2 separate regions of the Homo sapiens genome follow, and region 1 is linked to region 2. Evidence: fine-mapped expression QTL. A gene starts in region 2. The other region holds a variant in brackets. All regions are shown on one strand. Distances are from middle to middle.

What was found. PIP is the estimated chance that this variant, and not a neighbour inherited with it, causes the effect.
Region 1: its variant is fine-mapped to the expression of SAYSD1 in whole blood (TOPMed, PIP above 0.99).

Annotation. Positions count from the first base shown.
Region 1 is chr6:39,138,568-39,146,905 of GRCh38, reverse strand. No RefSeq gene overlaps it. Among named protein-coding and RNA genes, the nearest start is that of SAYSD1, 28 kb to the right of the region's middle. The variant T/C (reference allele first, on the strand shown) is at 3,747.
Region 2 is chr6:39,110,668-39,119,005 of GRCh38, reverse strand. SAYSD1 (SAYSVFN motif domain containing 1) reads left to right here and starts at 3,820. Exons shown (of 2, transcript NM_018322.3): 1 at 3,820-4,123. The coding sequence starts at 3,917. It also overlaps the pseudogene ANKRD18EP. RefSeq lists an enhancer at 3,937-4,226.

The sequences.
Region 1 (8,338 bases), 28 kb before region 2:
CATCTAACACAGCATCTGGCAAATTGAAGGCAATAAATTCAAGCTACTCTTGTTTTGTCTAGAAGAGATGCCTAAGACAGTCTTCTGGAATCCAGCCCATGCCCTTCCATGTACCCCCATCCCCTGTCTTACAAGGGCTGGAAGGTTCTAAATTACTTTTTTAGACTCCCTTGGAGCTAGAGAGATTTAGGCTGAGATACATTCAGGCAATTTTAGAAGGAAGAAGTTAACAAGAAGGGGCAGATGTGGTTGCAGTAGCCAGACACCAAGTTCCAGTTGTTGGTCACCAGCTTCATGGGCTCACAACAACCATGGTGACAGCAGCAGGGGCAGCAACAGCAGTTCCTGACCTCTGACCTGCAGCTGTGGAAATGTGATCTTGAACCATTAGCCTCGGGGTGGCCCCTGACATCTGATTGCTTGGATTAAGTCTGACTGGGGCTTGACAGAGTGGTTTCTGCTTTGTGCCCTGACTCCTACTTCTACAAAAGACCTCACTAAAAAGTGGCTTCATGATGCTCTCCTCTCTGCATTTACCCAGTAGGTTCAGGAAGGTTCCCTGGATCCTCCTTATCAGGCCCATCAGAGAGAGACAAGGCCCTGTGATTAGAGCTGTCGTGATGACCTAAGAAGCAGAGAAAGAATCAGCAATAGCCAGCCTGGCACAGAACATTGCATTAACTGCATTGGTGCTCTTGCATTGATTTAAAATCTTATCATAGAACAGAGTCCCACTAACCAGAATCTTCCATGAATATGATGTCCTGCCTCTGGATGTTGTTGAGCTCGGGGCTGGGTGTCTGTCTCTCACCAGCCAGAGGGCCCAGCCAGATTTTATTGCATTGCGATATTTATAGCTGTAAACACTTGGGTGCCTTTAAAGGAATGTCTCATTTTAAAAACCCCACGTTTCTCAAATTAGGACACAAACCATAAACTTTTCATCATAGGCTAGCAAAAAGTAGCTTCTTGACCTCCTCTGATCCACTCCCCACTGTAGTCCAGTTTCAGGATGGGGATAAGAAAAAGTGATTTATAAAACTGCCCCCAGCACTGGTAGATGAGAACCACAGACACAAGGTTATTGGGCTGGTGGGTGCTGACTTCATAATGAACCCAAAGTTGAGCCCAAAGTTGAAGGTTAAGAAAACAGAGACAGATGGACCAGGAAACATGAAGACGGACAGGATATGACTGCTGCAGGCAGGGAGGGAAACACATCCTTAGCGTTTTAATAACAACCTCATCAAGTGCCTGCTGCGGATGTTTCACATGTGATCTTATTTAATCCTCACAACAACCCTATAAACTAGGATTATTAATACCATTTTACTAACGACAAAACTGAGGTTTGGAGAGATTAAGAGACTTCCTCCGGGATCCTGGCACAAGCATGGATCCCCCGGGATCCATGAGGTGAATCTAGAGAGTGTGAGTGCAGAGCCTGGCTTGGAACACGCTGTTGATTCTGGGCATGTTCAAAGGTGTTACACCAAAGAAGCAGATAAAAACCAGTTTGGAAAATAACAAGTTTTGGAAATTCTGGGTTAATCAAAGTGAAACAGGTTGGATGTTTTGTGTGCTTGTTTTCTGCTGCAGAACTTCTCAGAGCCTTTAATGATGCTACCGTGCTTTGTGAGTCTTCAAAAAGAGGAGCAATTATGCAGTTCTTCTTGAATACCTTTGAGCGCTGAACACATTTCTCATAGGGCATCTTCAGGGCTTAGTATCCCTCAAAGCACATTTTGGGAAATCCCACTTAGCTGAACTCAGGCCAAACTGTGGTTCATCAGTGTGGCTTGACCTAAGTGGGGGTGAGTATGTGACTGAGATATGTTTGCTTCTGTCTACTGTCCTGCACTATCATTGTAGAGGAGAGCATGGTTGCCTGTCTGAATTCTGGGCCACTAGTGACTCCAGTCCAACATCTCCAGGAAATGTGAAGTGGGTGAGAAAACTGGCAGTGGTGGAAGAGAAGGAGCCAGGAGGCAGAGAGACTGATGGAGAGACAGGGCCTTTGAGAGATGTCCAGGGACAAAGAAGAGTCTTTTCTTTTCACACAGGGTTTATGAAATTGTAATTTCCTGAAACAGTATTCTACATTCAATCTCAGAATATCAAATATCAAGCAACTGAAATGGAGAGAAACATGTGTCCAGCAGTGGGTAGTTTTCAGTGCAGTTAAGAATAAACATGGACAGTGAGTAGCCCACACACTGAGAAGGGAGGTCTCAATGAGAGGGGTTATCATTAGGTGAGTTATGCCAGAGTGCTCATAATTTGTGTTTATTTTTATTTCCTATCCTTCTGATAAAGACAGCTGTTATTTCTACACTGCTTCAGACAGGGCTGGCTACATAATTTGTGGGGCCCAGTGCAAAATGAAAATGCAGCGCTCCTCATTCAAAAAGCAGAACAAAAGTGCTGTTACATATACAAAAACAAAGAGCTTTCTCCTTTCTTCTGCAATCCCTCAACTTGTGGTGCTTTTTATTTGCTATTTAAAGTACAAAGAGGGAGCCAGGCATGGTGGTCCACACCTGTAGTCCCAGATACTCGGGAGGCTGAGGAAGAAGGACTGCTTGAGCCCAGGCATTCAAGAGCAGTCTGGGTAACTTAGTGAGACCCCATTTTAAGTAAAGACTAAGTGATATGGTTTGACTGTCTCTCCACCCAAATCTCATCTTGAATTGTAGCCCCCATAATTCCCACATGTTGTTGGCAGGGTGGGTGGGAGGTAACTGAATCATGGAGGAGGTTCCCCCATACTCTTCTTGTGGTAATGAATGCGTCTCACGAGATCTGATGGTTTCATAAGAGGTTTCCCCTTTCACTTGGCTCTCTCATTCTCTTCTCTCGCCTGCTGCCATGTAAAACGTGCCTTTTGACTTCCACCATGATTGTGAGGCCTAGCCACGTGGAACTGGGAGTCCATTCATCCTCTTTTTCTTTATAAACTACCCCGTCTTGGATATGTCTTTATCAGCAGTGGGAAAACAGACTAATACATTAAGTAACTATGTAAAGAAAAACAAAGAAGCGTAAATTCTTAGCCTAAAGTTTATGATTCATTTTTATATGGTACAGTGCCAGTTTTAGATGCAGATTATTAAACCAAGAACAGAGGCTTCTGAGTGAAGGACTCCGCGCGACCGCACAGGTCACATGCGCGGAAGCCAGGCTTGGCTGCAGAACAGGAAGAAACATGACTTTTGTTTTCCAGCGTTCAAGCAGCTGGTTTTATGCACTCCAGACAGACAGTGTGATCGGGTGTCTGACATTTACAGTGTTTCTCCTGTGGGAAGCTAGGGTACATTTTTGAGCACCATCTCTGAAAGATTATAATGACCGCTTCATTAGAGAGAGAAAGAGGAGTCTGCAAGAAAAATGTTTCCCTTGCACTTCTTGAAGCTGTAAATGTCACTGCTCATTGTACGGAAATGCTACCAGGGCCAGGGCTGATAAGCCAATCAGGTAGCCTCCGGCAAAGGCATTTCATAAACACTGACTGAAACTGGCCTGGTAGCTTCAGGGCCCAATGGACTACACCAGGTGAGAGACTGAGAAATGGTTTCCTCGGGAGAGAACAAAACACCACCCTTCCACCTAGGAAGGGCAGGGGAGCTGGACATTACAGGAGACAGCTGTTTTCTTTCTAGAAGGTGTGCTGGGACAGAGTTAAGCCTGCATATCTGCCTTTTCCTCTGACTCCATCTTTTCCTGCTACACGAGATATCATGCAAGCA[T/C]GTTGATGCCTTATGCCTTAATTAGAATTAACGTTCCCAGCCACTGGTGCCTCTTCTTTGCTTGTTTATGAAGTTAACACTTAACGATCCTCAAACTTTATGAGACTTATGTTATTGTCCTCATTTTCCTGATGAATAAACTGAGACTTCAAAGGATGATGTGACTGATGGAGGTCACCCAGCCAAAGTGGGTTTCCCTGAGCCTGGGGGCCAGGTCTGGCTGGCTCCAAAGTGAATCCTGGTCCTCAATCTTTCCCTGCCCCTGTCCATCATCCTGAATCTTGGCTCAGCATCACAGCACCGGCTGTGGATCTGTCTGCGGGATTCAGAGGGGCTAAGGATTTTACTAAATACCAACTGTACACAAACACACACACACATATAAATGGTGTAAATAGATATCTTTAGAGTCTGGGCACATCCCTTTGAATATCCTTCATGGTGGCAAATCTTTTCCTCTGAAAGTATATTTGATTTTTCAAAATGAATGAAAATTATTTGGAGCCTGATAGTTTAGTGGGCTGTGAATTTATTCTGCAGATAAAGTGGTAAAATAGGTAATTGGGATGTGGAAGGAATGAAAGGATAAAGGTCTGTCTGTCTGTCTGTCTGTCTGCGCGTATGCACATACGCCTTTTTTTTTTTTTTTTTTTTTTTTTGAGACAGAATCTCATTCCGTCACCAGGCTGGAGTGCAGTGGCGTGATCTCAGCTCGCTGTAACCTCTACCTCCTGGGTTCATGCAATTCTCCTGCCTCAGCCTCGTGAGTAGCTGGGACTACATGTGCGCCACCATGCCCAGTTAATTTTTGTATTTTTAGTAGAGACGGGGTTTCACCATTTTGGCCAGGATGGTCTCCATCTCTTGACCTCGTGATCTGCCTGCCTCGGCCTCCCACAGTGCTGGGATTACAGGCGTAAGCAACCACGCCTGGCCCATATGCATGTGTTTTACCACCTACCCTGAGCCCAGCATCTTGCTTGGTACTGCTTTCTGCGTCCTTGTCTTATCTGTGTCCACGCTCTGAGGTGGATATTATTATTCCCAATTTCTATAGGTAGAAATTAAGGATAAAAGAGATGAAGTTACAATCCTCCAGTAGTTCACAAAACTGAAACTGGAATCTAACTTGCCTTAAGGGAATGAGAGCCTTTTTTTGGATAAAAATAAAAAATAAAAATAAACAAAAAGAAAGAAGACATTTGTTTCCTCTAAAGCGATGAGATGATTGTCTTATGTGGTCCCAGAACTGGCTCTGCAGATAATTCTAAACCATTCTGAATATGTTTGGAGAAACGGCAGCACCACTATCATAAGAGTAAAATTTCCAAAGAGACTTCTCTAATGGGCACAAACCTCACTTGGCTGTGTCTGCATTATTTTTGTTTTAAATCAGAGAATTTCCTAGTCATGCTTTGGTTATAGTTCTTTAGAACCCAGGCTTTAGGCACTAGAATGAACCCTGGAGATCCGCTTGTTCAGCACCGTCATTCCCGGGAGGCACCCTCAGCTCCGGAGATGAGCTGAGATGAGATGAGTACCTGCTCAGGCGCCCACAATGGCTAGGGGCAGAGCCTTCACTCAACCCAGGAACTTGACAATGCAGTGCTGCCTCCCCACAGCACACCGCTTCCTCCCTCGCTGATACAACATCTTTCTAACAACAATAAACTTTTTTGGGGGGAAATTTCCATGTGTCAGACACCTAAAGTACATTGTCTTACTAAGTCTTCAAGGAAACCTAAGGGTGAGAAAGAACCATTCCCATTTCACACATAATGAAACCGAGGCCCGGAGAAATCAAACAATAGGTCCAAGTTACATAGCTAGGAAAGCGAGGGCCCAGGATTTGAACCCAGCTCTGCCCACCTCTCAGTCCTGCATGTTTAACGGTACTCAATGCTGTCTCCTTTTGTCCCAGTGCCTTCTCCCTCTTCCTCCCATGTCCCCTAGGAGCCAAGTGTACAGATTCCCAGAATCAGGCACATTCCATTCAAACGCACCCTCCCTCCATCTAGTCACTTCCCTCTTTTTGTGTTTATCAACACAAATAGCCTGTCCTCCTGGCACATTTGTTTTGCTGGAGCCCTACCTTATTCCCTAGGAGCCCTGAGGAACAATGAGCTGTTACCCAAGCCCTCCGGGACTCCGCCCCCATCCTGGACAGCTTCCTCAACTTCCCCTCCTCACACTCACCCCCCTCCCTCAGAGCCTGTGTACAAAGTGCGTCAATCACTTGTTTACTTGCTTTTCCTGCCTGGGCCTGAGGTTCTGTTGGCTATTTTTCCCTCTGGAGTTTCTCCTGAGATGAGCTTTGATCTTCAGAAGGGAAGGGCCACAGGAAGATGATGAGAGATGCTAAGAGTGGAATGAGTGACGACTCATTCCATGATAGGAAACGAAAAGGTCATCTCTTAAAGAAACCAGCAAGGATGCTGGTGAGAACTGTGCATCCCTGCCAGTGCCTGGGTGGAGACAGGGACAGAATTCAAATTCCACAAGCCAGAGGCAAATCCTCCCAGACCTTTCCATCCTTAGCTAGCAGTATAATTCATCAAGTATTAAACCAATGTGTACCCTTTCCAGAAAAAGCTAGCGCTGCAGACACCCATTGGAGGGAGATGCTTTTAGATGCATATCTTCCCTTGGACAAGGCTGCTTGTGGAGACAACACAACTGCACAGTCTGATTTGAGAGCACACATGGGAACGTCTCTGGAATACTGCCTGCAATGCCACCCCAGTAGAGGTACTTATTTGGAATTCTAAAGACTAGTTTGGACCTCAAAATCCACATTAACATAAAAAAGGATCACTGGGCAGGGACATATAACTACTAAAATAATGTAGCAGCCAGGGTCCTGGCAAGATACGAAAGACATAATGAAAAGGATTTAACTGAAAATAATGTAATAAGGGACTATTTTTGGCGGGCTGTATGGGGTTAAGAGAAACAACAAGGGATGATGAGGCAGAGGGGAGGAAATACCCTTCACTTCTCTTTCCTTCTCCCCTCTGATTTCCTGCCAGTGCCTCCCACTGGCAAAACCCAGATAGTCAAGGAACAGAGGACCGTGGGTGATGTGCATAGAAGTCAGCCCCTGGGGCAGAGAGCAAGGTGGAAAGGGCAGAGAATGGATCAGAGTGGGCAAAGAAAGAATACACAGCCACCTACCCTCTCACTAACAGCTTAGGGGATGGTTTTTAACTGCCGGTCTCAGCAGAGCTGTTTTTCATGGACTCCAGGCTATTACAATAGGATTCTAACCACTGTAAAATGTATCTATTAAACAGGTCTGAAAATCAGCATTGTGCTGCTGGTCGGGTATTTTATTGTGATTACTGCCACCCCTGATTAGGCCTCTAGAAGAGGGAGAGCTCTTGCACCCCCTTTCCTATTTCCCTCTGTTCAAAGACTACACAGTACATGGGAACATATAATCTTATTACTTCACAAGGTAGGTTTGTTTTGGTGTCTTCTTGGTATGGAAGTTTTTATTGTGAAGTGTATCGTATGTATAAAAGAGTATTTGAGATATATGTAGAGTTTAAAATATAGTACATTTAATACCTATGTATTTACTACAAAAGTTAAGAAAGTGAACACTAACCTTAGAACACTAACCTTAGAAGTCCTCCAAATGCCCCTTTCTAAATAAAACCTCCAGCTTCCTCCCCAGAGGTAAACACTGTCTTGATTTTTGTGCTCATGTTTATCTTGATTATTTTTTCTTGTTGTTGACACAAGGTCTCACTCCGTTGCCCAGCCCAGAGGGCAGTGGCATGACCGCAGCTCACTGTAGCCTCAACCTCCCAGGCTCAATCGATCCTCTCACCTCAGGCTCCCAAGTAGCTGGGACTACAGTTGCACAGCGCTACACCCAGATAACTTTAAAAAAAAATTTTATAGAGATCAGGTCTCTATAAAGTATATTGCCCAGGCTGGTCTCAAACTCCTGGGCTGCTCAAGTAATCCTCCCACCTCAGCTTAAAGGCATTAACCACCACACTTGGCCCCATCCTGATTTTCGTTATAGTTTTACCACCTAGGTATATATCTCATAACAATGTATATTAAGTAGAAGCACAAATCTAGCTGAGAATTAAAGGGTAGTGTTGCCTATTTTATAAAGGTGCCCAGGAGAGAGATAAGCTGAACAGAGTGTCTGGGTAATCTGGTTTCATCTTCCCCAAGGGTTTACAAGAGCCTCTCCTGGAGGAATAGGTAGACAAGGTCATGAGTGGGTCTTCCCTTCCCCATTTTCTCTGTTCTCTCTTTTTAGAATTTCTATTATTGCAGTATTGAAACTTCGTGACTGGTCTTCTATTCAGTTTCATCTGTTTCCTTTTAGTTTCTTTCTGTATATTTTTGCTCTTTATGAGGAGGGAGATGGAAATGAGGTGATATTTCTTCAATATTTCTTCCTTCTCAGGGTTTTTCATTTTCCTTATCTTTTTTTAATTTTTAAGAGCTTTGTAATCTCCTTAAGTATTCCTTTTTTATAGCATACTGTTCTTGTTTCATGGAATTTCTTTTACTTCTCAATGAATATTGATTATAAAATTTATTTGGGAAATAAAATTTTCCTGCAT
Region 2 (8,338 bases):
GGCCTGTATTAGTGCATTCTTGCATTGCTATGAAGAAACACCTGAGACTGGGTAATTTATAAAGAGGTTTAATTGGTTCACAGTTCTGCAGGCTATATAGGAAGCATAGCTGGGGAGGCCTCAGGAAACTTATAATCATGGCAGAAGGTGAAGGGAAAGCATGCAGGTCTTACATGGCTGGAGCAGGAGGAAGAGAGAAGGGGCAGGAAAGTGCCACAATTTTTTTTTTTTCCAAGACAGGGTCTCGCTCTGTTGCCCGGGCTGGAGTGTAGTGGCACGATCTCACCTCACGGCAACCTCCACCTCCTGGGTTCACCCAATTCTCATGCCTCAGTCTCCCGAGTAGCTAGGATTACAGGCGTGTGCCACCATGCCCAGCTAATTTTTATGTTTTTAGTAGAGACAAGGTTTCACCATGTTGGCCAGGCTGGTCTCAAACCCCTTGTCTCAAGTGATCCACCTGCCTTGGCCTCCCAAAGTGCTGGGATTACAGGCGTGAGACACTGCACCCAGCCATGCCACACACTTTTACACAACCAGATCTAGTGAGAACTCTATCACAAGACAGCACTAGGAGGATGGTGCTAAACCATTAGAAAAAAACTCATGATCCAATCTCACCAGGCCGCACCTCCACACTGGGGATTACAATTTGACATGAAATTTGGGCAGGGACACAGATCCAAACCATATCATGTGGGTATTTTATTTATAACTTATATGTATGACACATACACATTATATATGTTATGTATATGGCATATACATTATATATATGTAAAATGTGGCATTTACAAAATATTTCATAATAAAAATTAATGAAATTCACACATTAAGCACATTTTGGGGACCCTTCTTATTTACTAGTCTCATAATCCCGTCCAAAGAGGAAATAAAGTTGGCTTGGCAGGAGTTGTTCTTCATGATGGTCTCTTTCATCTTTTCTTTTTTCTATTCTTTTAACCTCTTCCAAAAAGGATTTAAAGAGGCTTACAAAGCACCAAGTAAAAGTAAATTCATAATAAATAAAACAAAGCAAAAAGAAAATAAGGTTTCCAAAGCAAGACAGAGCAGGAACCACATTAGCTCTGGCCTGGATGTTCTGTTTGCCTCTTCTGATCCTCTTTCCACCCTTCTCTACCTGTTCTATGCTCCCTGAAGGGCTCCTGTGTCTCCTTGCTTCTCCTATAGCTACAGGGCTCACTGGGTTCTGATAACTGCTCTGTCCTCCTGATGCTTTGGGCCTAGAGACAGGTAGCACTTCCTGTGAACCATCCCTTGCTGGCTTCCTTCATCCTGCCACACCTTTGTAACTTACTCCTTCACTAAGCCCTTCTTACTTCACCCTTTGGAAGGTGCCACGTTTCCTGTCAGGGACCCTGACTGCAACCGCCCACAAATTGTATGCCTTAATTCTATACACCTGCAAGATGCGGGCCTAAGGTCTTAGAGTCATTATCAAGTGGGAGACAAAATCGGTTAAAGAATCCCATCTCTCAAGAGAAGCAGACATACTCCTGACACCAAAATGGGCAAGAAATTTCCTCTTGTGGTTTCTCAAAGAGAGGACATTGTGGTGTAATAATCCCATTCTTTTCTCTTACAAACCATCTCTAATCCACTCAGGGCTCAGCCCTCAAATCTCTTCTTATCCACACTCACTGTTTGATCTTATCTAGTCTTACAGCTTTAAATATACACATGCTGATGACTCCCAGTGTGTGCCTCCGGTCCTGACTTTCCCCTCAAATCATTTTCACTATCTAACTGCCTATTTTTTGGATATCCAATAGGCATCCCAAGTTCTTTGTATGTCCAAAACAAAACTTCCAGTGTTTATTCTGTAATTCTCTCCTCCCAGTGTGCCCTCATTTCAATAGAGGGCCCCAGCATCATTTGCCTGGTTGCTCAGGGCATGTGTGTATGTATATGGGGGGGCAGGAGGAGTGGGGTAGTAATGGAAGAAACCTGTCATCCTTTTTTTTTTTTTTTTTTTTTAATAGCGATGAGGTCTTGCTATGTTCCCCAGGCTGGTCTTGAACTCCTAGGTTCAAGCGATCCCCCTGCCTTGGCCTCCCAAAGTGCTGGGATTATAGGCGTGAGCCACGATGGCTGGCCCTGTCATCCTTGATACCTTTTTTCCTCACATTCCACATCCAATCCGTCTCACACCATGTTGGCTCAGGTCTTCAAAATACATTCAGAATCTGACCAATTCTCGTGACCTCCATCACTACCACTCTAGCTCAAACTACTACAGTTTCTCATTCTACCATATTTATTCCTAACTAGTTTCCCTTCTTCTATTCTTGCAATCTTCCAGGGTCCCACCTCCATCAGCCAGTGTAATCCTTTAAAAATATGTCATATCATATCATCTCCTGCTCAAAATCCACTAACTGCTTCCCACCACACTTAGTCTTCACCATGGCCTACAGGGCCTTACATGCACGATCTTGCCCCTGGCATCTTTATTTTCTGTCACTCTTTCCTCCCTCCCTCCCTCCCTCTCTCCCCCTCTCTCCCTCCTTCCCTCCTTCCCTCCCTCCCTCCCTGCCTCCCTCTCCCTCCTTCCAATCCAGTCATAACAGCCTCCCTGATGTTCTGTGAACAAGTCAAGCGTGCTATTTGAGGCCTCGGGACCTTTGCACTTGTTCCTCTGACTGAAACACTCCTGTTCAGATATCTACATACCTCACTCATTTAAGTCTATGCCCAAATGACAAACCTTCAGGGAGGTCTTCTCTAATACCTCCACCATTGCCTACTTTGCTTCACTTTTCTTCACAGCACTTATCAGTACCTGATATGACATGAAATATGTAGATACACATTTGTTTATTGTCTGTATTTCCATTTGGAGTGTAAGCTCTAAGAAAACAGGTTTTTGTTTGTTTTTTCCTTTCATCCCAGCATCCCCAGTGCCTGTGACTTTAGACAGAGCAGGCCCTAGGTAAACGTCTGTTAAATGAATGGATGACTCTGTTCTAATTTGTCTAATTTCTCGAGTCACCCTCAGCCAGATCCAACAAATATTTGAGTCTTAATTATGTAAGTGACACTTAGCTAGATGCTTACAGCTTTAAGAACGTATAAAACAGCCCCTAACCTGAACTGTGTCCTTTTGGGAGGGTACTGATTGGGAGAGGGCACAAGGAAACTCCCAGAGTACAGAAATGTTCTTTCTCTCCATCTGGGTGGTAGTTACACAGGTGCATACATAAGAGCAAATCTACTGAGTCATATTCTTAAGATGTGTATTTTATGTTGCACCCCAATAAAAGTTTTTGTTGTTGGTTTTTTTAAGGTTCTGACGTATCTAGACACAAAACGAGATAATTTCCCAACGTGGCAAGACCAATGATGGAGCTGCACAGCCTGCTTTGTGAGCAGTGAGAAAGTCACCCTCCAGGTACTAAGATTGGCATACCCTTTCCTTGATAAGAGAAAAAGGGTAAGATGTAGCCTGTTATTCCTCTGACGCTGGAATGTCGTAGAGATCACGGGCCTCTCCTAACCCCTGGAACCATCTTCTCACTGTGGCGCTGTTCATTGGGGCCCAGCAACAGAGATCCCGAATACAGGACGCTGGATCAGTGGGGCCTCGAGCCCTTAAGTGAGATGCAGCAAGGCAGAGCGGCCTTTGGGAGAGGGCAATGGGGCAGCCCTGTGCTTTAGACTTGGCTTGAGGAGGTGACACTGTGTCCACGTGCCTGTGAAGAGAGAACGGCTGAGTATACACGCGACCCGCCAGACTTCACAAACGGAGGAGACGCGGGTCACACCAGTGCGCATGCTCAGCAGGGGCTTCTGCCACGCAGGCGCACGGCGGCCGGCGCGGGCCGAGCGGAGGCAACTGCTGTGCGGCCTGCGGGCGCGCGCTCCCTTATCGGCCAACGGACGCGAGGCGCGCGCCATGGAACAGCGGTTAGCTGAGTTTCGGGCGGCGCGGAAACGGGCGGGTCTGGCGGCCCAACCCCCTGCTGCCAGTCAGGGCGCACAAACCCCAGGAGAGAAGGCGGAAGCAGCAGCGACTCTAAAGGCAGCCCCAGGCTGGCTAAAGCGGTTCCTGGTATGGAAACCTAGGCCCGCGAGTGCCCGGGCCCAGCCCGGCCTAGTTCAGGTGAGACGATGGAAACTTCGGCCCTAGGACCTGGCCTCGGAGCCACAGTCGAGGGCGCGGCCCTAGCTGCCGGGGGTGTGGCCCTAGCTGCCGGAGGCGGGGCTACTGGCCCCCCATCCTGATCGAGGGCCGGACCGCTCATCTCCGGCCACACGTGTCAGCACTGTTACCAGTTTTGACATTTTCTTTCCAGCCCGCGACCCACGCAGGTCCTGATTCCAGCGAGAGTCGAGGGTCCTGGGAGAAAGCACCTCTGCTCTTAAATTATTCACTCCGAATTGAGTTATCGTGACGCCCTGTGGCATTGGGAAACCTCTCCACAACCAAGTTGAGCCACAGCCCTCTGCTAATGGAGGAGGGTAAAAGGTCTAATTGGATACCGATCACAAGTAGCAGTAATTAAAACTTCATTTGATTCGCACCTGGGGCACATGCAGCTAGTAGCCCAGATAGCCTGTGACTTAGAAATGCGTTTGAATACAGAATTTACCAAAGTGTGGTAGCTGTAACTGCCGGTAGTGGCAGAAGCTTATTCCAGTTCCATAGTGAATGTTCAAGACACAAACAAAAAAAAGTGATTTAGTATGATAACCTTTTCACATTTAATTGTTTTGGTAATCTCTTGTTTTGCAGATGAATTTAATTTGCATCCTTTTGTGTTTTCATTTAGTTTTAACTCAGTAAAATGGTAAGGTGGCTTGCAGTGAGGTTGAAATGTCTATGTGGAAATACAAGACAAAACATATCAAGGGATGAGTGCTTTGTAACAATTTGTGCCCAGTGCTTTGTTCCTCATAAGTGCAATAAGAACTAAAAAATTCCTTTTAAAATGAAAATATACTGGAAGAAAAGTGTACCTTGCTCACCTTAAAATTATTTCCTGTAAGTTCATCTATTATTGCACAACATTTGATTTGAGGGAATTTTTAAAAATTACTGAACCTATTACTCAATTTTGATTTGATATTCTCAGTGATATACAGGATTCCAGCTGACTTGCAGAAAGGTGAAAAGAGCGCAGCAGAGTTCAGACAATCCATTTCCTTGTGTGCAGTTTGTGTTAATTGTCTTTGGATAATTTTATTGTTGACTAGAACTTTCTAAGTACAACACTTGCTTAAGATTTTAGAAACCATTTCCCTTATTCTTTTTCTCTCTGCAGTTAAAAAACAATGTCTAACCCATGCAATGAACTTTTGACTGTATGTCTCATTTCCAAAGGAATGAGATCATTGAGGTGGACCCAGAGAAACTGAATTCAGAGAAAAACTTCCATTATTGAGAACCCAAACGCTGATTGCCAGACAAAAGGATGAGAGGAAATGCTGGACCTCCAGTTTCTTGTTAATTGCTCTGTTTTTCCATAAGGGACTCTGCCTTAAGCTCATTTTCATTGACTTATCATTTCTGGGTTTGCTCTGGTGTGAAAATTCTCATTTAATTTTTTTTCTTCAGATTCTGCCTCTAGTTTAGAAAAGAAAAAGTCTAATTTACAATTCATGTCAGACAATTTTGATGGCACACTGTGGCCTGTCAGAGATTTCTTTAGCATTCTATTTTTTTAAATTATTTTTAATTTTTGTTTTTTTAATTGAAACAGCTTTATTGAAATAAGGTTTACATACTACAGAATTTATCTCTTTTAACATACAGTTCAAAGATTTTTAGTAAATTTATTGAGTCATGCAACCATCACTGCAACTTTAGAACGTCTCTATCACTCCAAGAAGACCCCTCTTGCACATTAGCAGTTACTACCCATTTCCAACCCCAGCCCCGCACAAATGTCAGTCTGCTTTCTATCTATACATTTGTCTTTTCCGGATGTTTCATGTAAATGGAATTATACAGTATGGTAAACACATTTTTTGTCTATTAATTTTTATATTCAACTAGGTTCAACATGTAGCCGTAGCCAAATATTTTAAATTTTCCTTCTGGAAGTTTGAAAATATTTATCTTTTTTGATACTTACTTCTCCTTCTGCTTTCTCTTTTTCATACTGAAACAGTCTTTTAAATGATTGCATTCATTGATTAATTCCTTATTTTTCCCTTCTAGCAGAAGACCTTCCTTTTCACTCTCAAGACAGCATCCTTGGATATTAATTACCTTTTGTTCATTATCCCCTTTCTTATGAGCACCATCTAGTTGTTGAAGCAACAGATTTTCATGTTGTAGTTGAGATATTCTCTCCTCTACGTAGTCCCACTTTCCAAAGGATTTACTTGGCTTAGGTCCTTTTGTACACTTTATAAAACCAAAACCTTTTCTCTGAGAGAATTTCTTGTGTCATGGAGTTTACTTTTTAGGGTATTGAATTCGAGCTTCGGAAAGTTGCTCAGTTAAAAACTCATTATTATCTTTTAGTTCAGAAATATCAGAACTCATTTTCTTTCTTGTAAAGAAACGTCTTGTGCTCTCTGTAAAGCAAGTTCTAGGTCTCTTTTTGTTTTCACACTTTGATCACACTCACTTATAGCAGCAGCCAGTCTAGCATGGAATGACTCAACTTCAGCTTCCAGTCTTTCCTTGTTTTGATTTTCCTTCTCCAGTTTAGACTTGAGCATTGTATTCTCAGTTTTGAGGTCGTTAAGCTGTTGACCATACTGGGATACTGTTTTTGTTAATGTTTTTCCATTCAGTTTTATAGTCTCTTGAAGGTCATCATTCATTTCTTTAACAATTTCAATGTCCTTTTTCCCTTTCGAGGTTCCTATTTTTTATTGTGTATACTTACATACACAATAAAGGCAATATCTCTCTTCAACAAGCAATTTTCATGCATCAGATCTTTTTTTTTCTTAAAGTATTTCTTCAAGCCTTCAATTCTATTTCTAGTGATCCGATAGTCAGTTTAAGCTGTTCTTTTACTTCAACTTCTTTCCTATGTTGCTCCACTTTCCTTTCTAACTCTTCCCTAATTTTTTCATATAACATATTAGCATTTCTTCTCATCTTCTTCTAAGCTGCAAACTGTAGAGTTCCTGTTTCCATTCTACTTTTTGATATTGAACTGTGACTTCGTTTCTTGTGTTTTGGATAGCTCCTTCAGTACACTAAACTCAGTTTTCATATTTCTTATTGTCTAGTGTAAGTTGTTCACAGATAATTTTTTTTAAGGTCCAGTGACTTTTCACATGAAAGAAATGCATTCTGGACTTCCATTAGGATACGAGAATCATTACAATCCATTCCATATTGCTTAATGAGCATCATAAACTTCTTACAATGAGGGTAAGGTTTCTCATGATCCTCTGAAGCTGTTTCAGAGGGCCGAGTTAAGTCATCAGGTTCATCTCTAAATGAGTTTGCTTTTTGACCTTTTTCTTTTCATTTGACATTTTCTTTGCAGGCCTAGCATACTCTTTGTTCTCCTTCCTAGGAAATCGCTGATGGTAAGTTTTTCCACTCTTTCTTTGTTGAATTAATTTATCATCATCGTCAGCAGATGTACTATCATATACGTTTTTTTGATACTTTTTTTTTTTAACTTTCGTGCTTCTTTCTAGCTTCTTCAACCTGTGGCTGTTTATTTTCACTTTCAAGCTTTTCCTGTTCTTCCTCTGATGTCACTTGTACTTCTTGTTCTGCTTTGGATGTTTGTTCGTTCTTCCTTTCTATTGCTTTCTTCACAACAGAATCTTTCATTTCCATGGTAGGCTTTAGGGAAGGATGTTTTTCAGGAGGCCCTTCTCCCTTTCCATTTACTATATATTTTTTCCTTTTTTATATGAAGGTCCAAGTAAAGACTTTGAAACACTCTCAGGGATACACTGCTTGGTAGTAAAAGTCAAGTCTTCATCATCTGGTTTAGGCCATGAGTCAACACACAGTTTTTTTTTAAATACTGAATGCAGATGCTTCAGAACTCCCAGAATCTTTTGCACTTGCTCCTCCTGTTTTCAAACTTGCATTCTTCTTGGATGCTTCTTCTGGGTTGTCATTTTGAAGACCATTTTCAAGTATCTTTTTTTTTTAATGTTGCAAAATTTGTTGTGAGTGCTTGTCAGACCACCAGAAATAGCATAATCTGCAGTCTGTTCATACATACTCTTGAGTAAAGACAATATTTTGTTGAAGAAGAATGCTAACTATACCTGACAAGCCATAATGTACAACAGGCATGAGAGCTGTTCTTTTCAACCTATCAACAGCATGTACATTTGCTTGTTTCTTCACTAAAATTCCACCTTTTGCTGTGTTTTGCAAACT